Homo sapiens: one gene and its partner. The protein of the gene in region 2 purifies or fractionates together with the protein of the main gene of each other region. This does not show direct contact. Each region holds a gene or a part of one and is shown on either strand. Other genes may lie near its edges.

Region 1 (4,508 bases), on a different chromosome or scaffold from region 2:
ATGTGTAAACAATGATTCCCTTCTCCTCTGGCGACTTCAGGACACAGAGAAACAGTATCTGCTGTAAGCAAAAGCACTTGGGTAGAAGGCACGTGGAAGCTGTCAAGCTCTACAGGAGCACGCAGAACATGTGGGATGTCCACTTCTCTTCCCATGTAGCATCCCTGCTGTTGGGACAGGTCTGGAATCAGATGAAAGGTGGTGATGGTCTTGTCACGGTCTCAGCCTCATTCCACAGTTACAGACTTGGCCAGATTTCTGGGGAAGTCAACCTAAAATGAAAGAAAGTGACTGTTCAGGACCCCAAAGATCTCAGCAACATGCTACCTCTCACAGACAATTTTCAGAGTACTTAAAAACAAGAGACAGATGTTCACCATGGTCACCAACCTAGAGACCTGCGTCTTGGAGGCAGATTCCTTAGTCCAGAAGCCTCATTTAACCGTATAAGGTTTAGTCCCTCAATAAACATTTACTGTGCACCTGATGTGTGTCATGATCTGTTAACATGATTTAAAGAATAAGGTTCATGCTTTTAAACACAGGTAACTTGGTGTGTACTGTTAAAAATTAACTTTTCTTGCAAGAATATATATGAATTCCATGGGACTTATTTGTTTAGGGTGGAGTGGGAAGGAAAGGTAGGAATGGTTCATAAGTACGCTTCTACTGGGCCGGGTGCGGTGGCTCACACCTGTAATCCCAGCACTTTGGGAGGCTGAGGCAGGTGGATCACGAGGTCAGATCAAGGTCATCCTGGCTAACACGGTGAAACCCCGTCTCTACAAAAAATACAAAAAATTAGCCAGGCATGGTGGCGGGTGCTTGTAGTCCCAGCTACTCGGGAGGCTGAGGCAGGAGAATCGCTTGAACCCAGGAGGTGGAGCTTGCAGTGAGCCGAGGTTGTGCCACTGCCCTCCAGCCTGGGCGACAGAGCGAGACTCAATCTCAAAAAAAAAAAAAAGAAAGCTACTTTAAATAAAATTATTTACTCTATGACTATTTACTCCAAGTATTTAAAGAACAGAAAGGAACTCTGGGGTTATGTCTCTCCTCTCTGCTGTTAGGTGCAGTTTTTAGACGCACGTCATATCCTCGGAGAACAGCCAGGTGGAAGGACAGCAGCTGCAGCGGAATCACGCTCAGGATGCCCTGGAGGCAGTCCACAGTGTGGGGCAGCTCAATTGTCTTATACGCAAACTTGGAACTTTCAGTATCGTCCTTGGAGCACAGTATAATGGGGCGACCCTAGAGCAGAGAAATAGCATCATAAAATAGACCCTCTCTGAAAGAAGCTATCCCTGATGCATACAGAGTATCTGGAAGCTACATTACTGTGATGAGAACAGTCCTCTTTTGCATTTGCTGGAGTCATGGGTGAGGTGGTATGTGTGGGACACAAATGCTTGGAAAGGATAAAGTGTCTGATGCTTTTTGGGGGTTTCTTCCCCTTCCCTGGTAAGGAGATTGCCATCCTGCTGCATCATTTGGCACCCATTTGTGCCTTGCCGAGAGCGGGGCAGACTCACTCCTAACTCTAGCGGGGCTCATAGTCTAGTGGTAGAAAACAAAAACCTAGACAAGCAAACCAAGAAATAAAGATGAATTCCAGGCCGGGCGTGGTGGCTCACGCCTGTAATCCCAACACTTTGGGAGGCTGAGGCGGGTGGATCACGAGGTCAGGAGATCGAGACCATCCTGGCTAACATGGTGAAACCCTGTCTCTACTAAAAAATACAAAAAATTAGCCGGGTGTGGTGGCGGGGGCCTGTAGTCCCAGCTACTGGGGAGGCTGAGGCAGGAGAATGGCGTGAACCTGGGAGGCGGAGCTTGCAGTGAGCCGAGATGGCGCCACTGCACTCCAGCCTGGGCGACAGAGCCAGACTCCGTCACAAAAAAAAAAAAAAAATGAATTCCAAAGAAATGCCACCAAGGCTAGAAAACAGGATAATGTCATTGGGAGACTGGTGAGGTCTCCAAAGCTCTCTCAAAAACAGGAGACATCTGGACTGAACCCTAAATGATGAGGGGACAACCCTCGGCGGAGCATTCTGTGGGAAGGGCATTCCAGACAGCAGGAGCGGCCAGCGCAAAGGCCCGGAGGCGGGCGCGGGCGCAATGAGAGTGGGACGCAGAAGGAAAGCTGGAGTGCCTGGAACTCACTGAAACAGGAGGAAAGGGCCAGATAACGCAGGACTGTGGGTCTCTGTGGCTTGACAGGCAGGTATGGGAGGGTTTTAAGTGGGGAAATGATGCCATTGTGTTTTATACCCTCACTCTGACCTCTGTGCTGAGCCAGGTGGCAACATCTGGATGGGGCACCTCATTGGATTTCACCTCCCCGAAACTTCATGAACTCTGCCCTCCTACCTCAGGGCAGCTGCTGTGTACAAAGCATTTGGTTGGTCTTTGTGGCCGGTTCCAGGAAGGGAGCTCCTGGCTTCTGGACTTTCCCATGTGACAAAAGCATCTTTGTTATTTATGGGAGGTCCCTTGGACTATACCTAACTTTATGCTAAGGTGACGACTCGTGGTGGGCCTGTAGATAGTTCCAGGATGGCGTCTGGCCCTGCTAGAAAGGCCAGCCACATGATTAGAAGGTTGGGGCTTTGAGACATGAGCCTGTCAGTCTGACCTCCCAACCTCCAAGGACAAAAGTGGGGCTGGCGACTGAGTTTGATCACATGGCCAATGGTTCACTCCATCCTGCCTACTTAATAAAACCACAATACAAACTCTGGACACTGGAGCTAGCAGCTCAGGGGAGCTCCCGGGCGACACACAGTGACGTGCTGGGAGGGTGACACATCCTGAGGACACAAGCTTCACATCTGGGGCCCTCAAACTAGGGGTCTCTTCTTTTGGGTTGGCTGTGATTTATATCTTTTATAATAAAACTGTAATCATATAGTCATCTCCTGAGTTCTATGGGTCGTTCTAGAAAATTACTGAACTTCAGGGGAGAGTGGGAATCCTTGGATTCATAGTCAGTTGCTCAGATGTGTGGGTGGACCCCTGGCTTGCAACAGGTGCCTGAATCGAGGGCAGTCTTATGGAAAGCTGTGCCCCTGCCCTATGAGACCTGACCTAACTCCAGGTAGTTCCCATCGGAGCTGCTTGGCCGCAGAACCTGGGGAAACCCTGCCCCAGGGATGTCCACCAGGAGTACCTCCCCTGAGCTCCAGGCTAGGATCTGGTGCTGCTCACAGCAGTGTGGGTCCCTGGGCCCCACCAAAGAGCTGTGTGGGACAGCTGCGGGCTGACCAGCTCCTTTCCAAGTGTGTGCACTCCCCACAGGCGGCCCGGGGGAGGGTGTGTGGTCACAGCCACTCACTGGCCAGACCATCCATCACTGGTACTGGCAGACAGTGGTGAGGTGGGCATGCATGGGGAAAAGCAGGAGAGAGCTGGCCCAGTCCAGTGGAGAGCCCTCACCTGGCGGGCCGTGACTTGCTGCAGGGCGTTCTGGCATTTGGCGAAGCAAGGATCCTTCATAATGACCATGATGACGGGCATCTGCTTGTCAATCAGTGCCAGGGGCCCGTGCTTCAGCTCCCCAGCCAGGATGCCTTCTGAGTGCATGTAGGTTATCTCTTTAATTTTCTGGAAACAGGAGGTGAGATCAGAGTCACACTGGGCAGATGGGGCTGGAGCAGATCAGCCAGAGGGGAAGAAGGGGAACCAGGGGAAGGATGACTCTGGAAGGCAGAGAGCCAAGGGTTGCAAGGCAGACAGATGCCTGGAGTGCTTGACAGCACTGAGGACACCCAGCAAGGGCCTGGGGAGAGGCCTGGCTACCATCCAGAGCATGCACCAGCCCGGGACACAACCTCTGTGTCCCCACACCAGCCCCGGGCACTGCTGTTGTCTCTCTCCAGTCCCACGCACAGCCACCCCTTAGGACAAACAAGTCGGAGTCAGCCTAGCTCACCCCCTGCTCCTCCCTAGCCAGCCACGTGTATAACGACAGCATCGTATTCAGCTTAGCTACACCTTCAGTTAATTATCTGATTAAGCATTTGCCCATTAATAACTTCTAAAGAGTGGTTCCAAGCAAAATCACACAAACTGGGGTGTTATTTGAATTAATTTTTTTCCTGTGTTCAGGTAGATCCATCTCTATTCAGTTACCACAAATCCACGTCATTGAAATGGTGAGACAGTCAAATAAATCATCTCTCGACTCCCCGCTAGCACTGCTGATTTAGGTCAGGGCCACACTGTAAGGAGTGCGGCTCCAGTCTGGAGGCGCAGACAGCTGCAGTGCCGGCCTCCCAGTGACCAGAGGACCATGGGCTCGTGCCAGCAGCCACCTAAACGCTTCTTCCTTCAGCAGACTCATGCGGAGGCATAGCTGCAATGTGCATCTCCCGCCAGCACGTTCAGCCACCGCAGCTCAGCCCCCACCCATGACGCAGAGTCATCTGGGGACTGACAGTGCACCCCAGGCCTTGCCTCTACTGCACTCCAAGAAGCAGCACCTGCCTGTTCTTTAACAGGAGTCAGAA
Region 2 (4,609 bases):
TCTCCCAACACCATGACCATCTGCCCCATCAGTGGCATAGATTCCTCCCAGGCCATACTTTTGGCTGGGGAAGAAGTCCCTGATGATGTTGAGGACAAGATACAGGCAGGTATCTCAACTAGGTCAATACATTGAGTTATCAGCTCAGGTGGATTAGTCGTTGCCCAGTTCCTATGCCCAGTAGCCCTAGTCTTGGATTCCATGGTTTCAATTTCTCCCTTTTCATTCTCTTGAGCCCATTCAAATATGGTTTTCATGCCACCACAACTGCTCCTGCTCCTGCCAAAGTCACAGGTGACATCGACGTTGCTAAACACAATGGCCAGTTCTCATTTCTCACCTCACTGGCCCTGCCAGCAGCATTGGCCTGGTGGATCCCTCTCTACTTCCTGAGGGCTTGATTGGGCTCCCTGGGCACCAGTTTTTCCTCATACCTCACTGGATGCTTCCTTCTCTGCCTTTCCTGGTTCTTCCTCTGCTTCCTGAGCACTTCACATTGGAGAACCCCCAAAGTACAGTCATTGGACCTATCTTTTCTATCTAGATTCATTTTCTTGATGATCCCAGCCAATCTTATAACTTTCGATACTTTCTATCTGCTGACAAATTCCAAATTTTATATCCTCTAACCAGACTCATAGGTCCAACTGCCTACTCACCATCTCGCTTTGGATGTCTAACAGACATCTCAAATGTAACATTCCAAAACTGAGCCTCTGATCTTCCCCTTCCCCCAAAATCTGCTCCTCTCACAGTCTCTCCATTTCAGTAAATGACAACCCTATCCAACTAGTTACTCACACCAAAAACTCTGGTGTCATCCTTCACTCCTCTCCTTTTCTCACACCCACATTCAATCTGTCAGCAAATCTACTTTTACTATACCTTCAAAATATACTCAGAATCTGAATCCTCCTGACAACCACTCTGCTAACCACCCTGTGCAAGTTACTATCTCTTAAGTGTCTCTCTTTTCTCATCAATAACTGGGGGCAATAATAGCCTATGACTTACAGGGTTCTTGTGTGGAATAAAAGATAAGACATGTAAAGAACTTAGCATAGTGCCGAACAAATTGTTAGTGCTTGGCCAGTCATGGTGGCTCACACCTGTCATCCAAGCACTTTGGGAGGCTGAGGAGGGAGGATTGCTTGAGGCCAGGAGACCAGCCTAGGCAACATGGTGAGATCTTGTCTCTACTAAAATTCAAAAAAATTAGCCAGGTGTGATGGTGCGTGCCTGTAGTCCCAGCTACCTGGGGTACTGAGGCTGGTGGATTACTTGAGCCCTGAAGGTCAAGGCTGCAGTGAGCCATGATCATGCCACTGCACTCCAGCCTGGGTGACAGAGTGAGACCCTGTCTGCACCCTCCCCCCTCCAAAAAAAAAGTTGTTAGTGCTTAATAAATTTTAGCTTTCATTATTATTTGTGGCGTCAGTTTTCTAGGAGGTTTCAAGAAGACGTGGCTAGTAAAGTTGAAGCTATCAGTTCCTTTTCATAAGAACTGAGTTTTTTCTTCAACACATGAAATTTTCATTTTAAAGGTTTTACCTAAATGAGCTAAAGAGAAAGAAGTCCAAACTAATCTCACCCAGTAAAACTGTCACAGATAAGATCCAAATAAAGGGTTAAAAAGCACAATAGCAATTTGAATCATTGGAATTCTTCTCTATAAAAGTAATTTTCAGCTAACCTAGAAAATATTTTAAATCTAAAGTTATATAAGATTGTCACATATCATACTGCATAGCTGTCTACAGCCCTAGCTTCACAACCTGAAATAATTTGGGGATATGAGGAAACTCATAGGATGTTTCTACAACAGCAACTGAGATAACAGCCATCATTTGTATAAAACAGCCTTGTTTTATAAACCTAAAGTCCCAGCTAATTAGTAATAGGTAGAAAGATTCTGGAAAATCCTCAGTGTTATCTGAGATGTCAGCAATATACAATAGGCCTGAACTATATAGGAAATATCTTGGGTAAGTGACCTAATGCATAAATTAGATGTGTGGATATCACTAATAAGATAAACCATTGCACTAAATAAGAAGAAAAATATTTCAGAGCATTCAACTTGTCCTTTAATGCAATCACTTTGTTAATATATGTGGTAAGAAACAGTATTTGAATAGATAAAAGTAGATGAGCATTTTTTCTTAATATTTTTCAAAAATTATGTTTCTTCTTTATTCTTTAAGTATGGATCTCTTTCATTATATATATGTCTGTGTGTGTGTGTGTGTGTGTGTGTGTGTGTAGAGATATATGTATCTCTCTATATACACATAAATACATGAAACATCTACCACGTGCTGAGTAATGAGGAAACAATAGTGAATTGTTTTTATTACTAAGCTCCTTATAAAAATATTTTGATCGTTTTGAGTATAAGAGCCAGGTAACAGTGGCCTTGGAGTGTTTTAAGTTGGCGGGTGGGGGAGATAACCCTAATATAAAATCATCAGGAATTGACTGTGCTTAATTTATTAGATTTTCTTCATCTGTATTTAATTATACATTATACTCTGTGGTATTCTTAGAGTGATATATACAATGTAAACAAATTTAAATATCACATATATGCAAAAATTACTTAGTAAAGGTAAACTCCCATTAATACCTACTGTGGGCTCATTTTAGCTGATCCATGTATACTTTGTATGCTAATTTTATTTATTTATCTGTTTTTTTATAGGAAGTCCTGGCTGAGCAAGGTTGGAAGCCCTAGTTCTCGCATTGACCGCACAAACTTTTCTAATGAAAAAACCATCTCTAAGCTTGAATACTCTAATTTTAGTATTAGATACTAATAGAAGAGAAAAATTGTAACACACTGAACAATAGATACTGTATGTTCTTAAGACTATGTATACTAGAATAATAGTAGCAGAGTAGGGTGAAAAGGAACTTTCTGTTCTGAAAGCTAAGCGACTGTACGTGCTACTAAAAATGTCTGACACTGAAATAATTTTACTCAACTATGTTTTCAACAAGCAAAAATATAGTATTCTAAGATTAAAATGTCATTACAAAATATTTAGTGTGAACATTTAATTTAAACTTGTCTCATGGAATCTTTAATTTCAATGAACATTACAGCATATATATGTTATTTGGCGAGACATCAAATAAAGTTAACCATTTAAAAATTATTTTCATATACTGTTGTCTATGTTGAATTATAAAATCCTCTGAATAATTTGTTACTACGGTTATTTGTTATTAAACTCTTCAAAAAGAACCAGTGATTAGAAATAAATGTGATGATCAATATAACCATAAAATATTATCAACAAAGAGTTTTAAAATTCTGGTTAATGTGAACATTATTTGGTTGGAGCTACTTTAATGCCTTCTATATTGTTGTGTGCAGTGAACATTCAGGCTGAATGATGGTGGCTAACAAGAACTCGCAATTTCAGTATAGCAAGCAGCAAGATTTTCAACCACCACCCACAATAGATGTCCTATTAACCAGAAAAGAAACCGAGAGTCTAAATGAATCCATACAATACTGTCCCCTAAACTTGGCCTATCTCTTGGGAAGCTTCACATGTAACTGATAAAGCAATGGAGAATTTAAAGGGGAAGGTTTTTTCTATAGCATAAAATGATAATGTTAAAAAAGGAAGACCTTTAATGAAAAACACTGGGGAATTTCAAGTGTTGTAGGCATATACTTGCACATATTCCATGATTTTCAAACTTTTTATATCAATGGAATCCTTCCTTAAACCAAAATTTTATATAGAATTGAATACGTAAGTTTTTAAAAAAAGCAAAAACAAAGCACAGCTGGTGAAAATAAAGTGGAGATGGGCGTCCCCAGAGCCTTGCATACTTGGTGTCCCTTTCTCTACTTGGACAGTTTCAAATACCTTGCTAGTACACTTTGAAAACTACTATTCTATCTAAGGAACAAATCTCTATTGCTATCCTCCATGGCCTGGAGAACGAATGCAGGCCTCTTTCTCTTCTACCTATGCAAGATAAGAAATGAGGAGAGATGAAGGGGGCGGGGGTGAGTTTGTTCATTGGAAAGGTTAACTCCTTGATGATAATATTGTTATCAAATGTATATAAAACAACACAACATTAGGGAATGACTTTCCAAATAAAGGACTAAAGAACTTTCCTATTATTCTAATACCATCATCATGTTAAGTATTACATGTTTCAAATGTCACGCAGGAGAAGCTATTGAGATGTTCTTTTGGATTTTGCTCTCCTTCTGTTTCCCCACTCCTGATTCAAGAAAGGTTGACAAGTCTTTGTGTTCCCTTATTTCAGGGGAAGCTTTGGGTGCCAGATCCCCCTGAAGACAACCTTTCTTCCAAAATTTCATTTTAAAGAGGGCATTATCCTGTGAGTTGAGGAGAAAGACAAATGCTGGGCTTTTAGGGGGTAAAAGAGAAGCAGAAGTTGTGAGAGCCAAAGAAGACAAGGAGATTATCCAAGACTTTGGAAAGGAACCAAAGGCTGTGGATTACCCAAGTCATGGAGACCTGCACCTTTCTCCCCAGTGGCACCTCTACCTATAGCTAAACCTGAAAGGGAAGCAGCTGTAGTTCCCAGAGAAGCTAGATCCCAGGCCCAGGGGCTT

The links. Proteins that work in one complex are often made in the same cells at the same time.
Region 1: the proteins of ACYP2 (region 2) and GFPT2 purify together in Homo sapiens (affinity purification with mass spectrometry; one large-scale study listed by BioGRID and IntAct). This does not show direct contact.

The regions. Positions count from the first base shown.
Region 1 is NC_000005.10:180,301,337-180,305,844, forward strand, and holds part of GFPT2 (glutamine--fructose-6-phosphate aminotransferase [isomerizing] 2), read right to left. Parts: intron 3,604-4,508; coding exon 3,436-3,603; intron 1,249-3,435; coding exon 1,087-1,248; intron 273-1,086; coding exon 228-272; 3' UTR 1-227. UniProt on the Homo sapiens protein: Controls the flux of glucose into the hexosamine pathway. Most likely involved in regulating the availability of precursors for N- and O-linked glycosylation of proteins.
Region 2 is NC_000002.12:54,301,987-54,306,595, forward strand, and holds the end of ACYP2 (acylphosphatase-2), read left to right. Parts: intron 1-2,701; coding exon 2,702-2,816; 3' UTR 2,817-3,314; downstream 3,315-4,609. UniProt on the Homo sapiens protein: Its physiological role is not yet clear.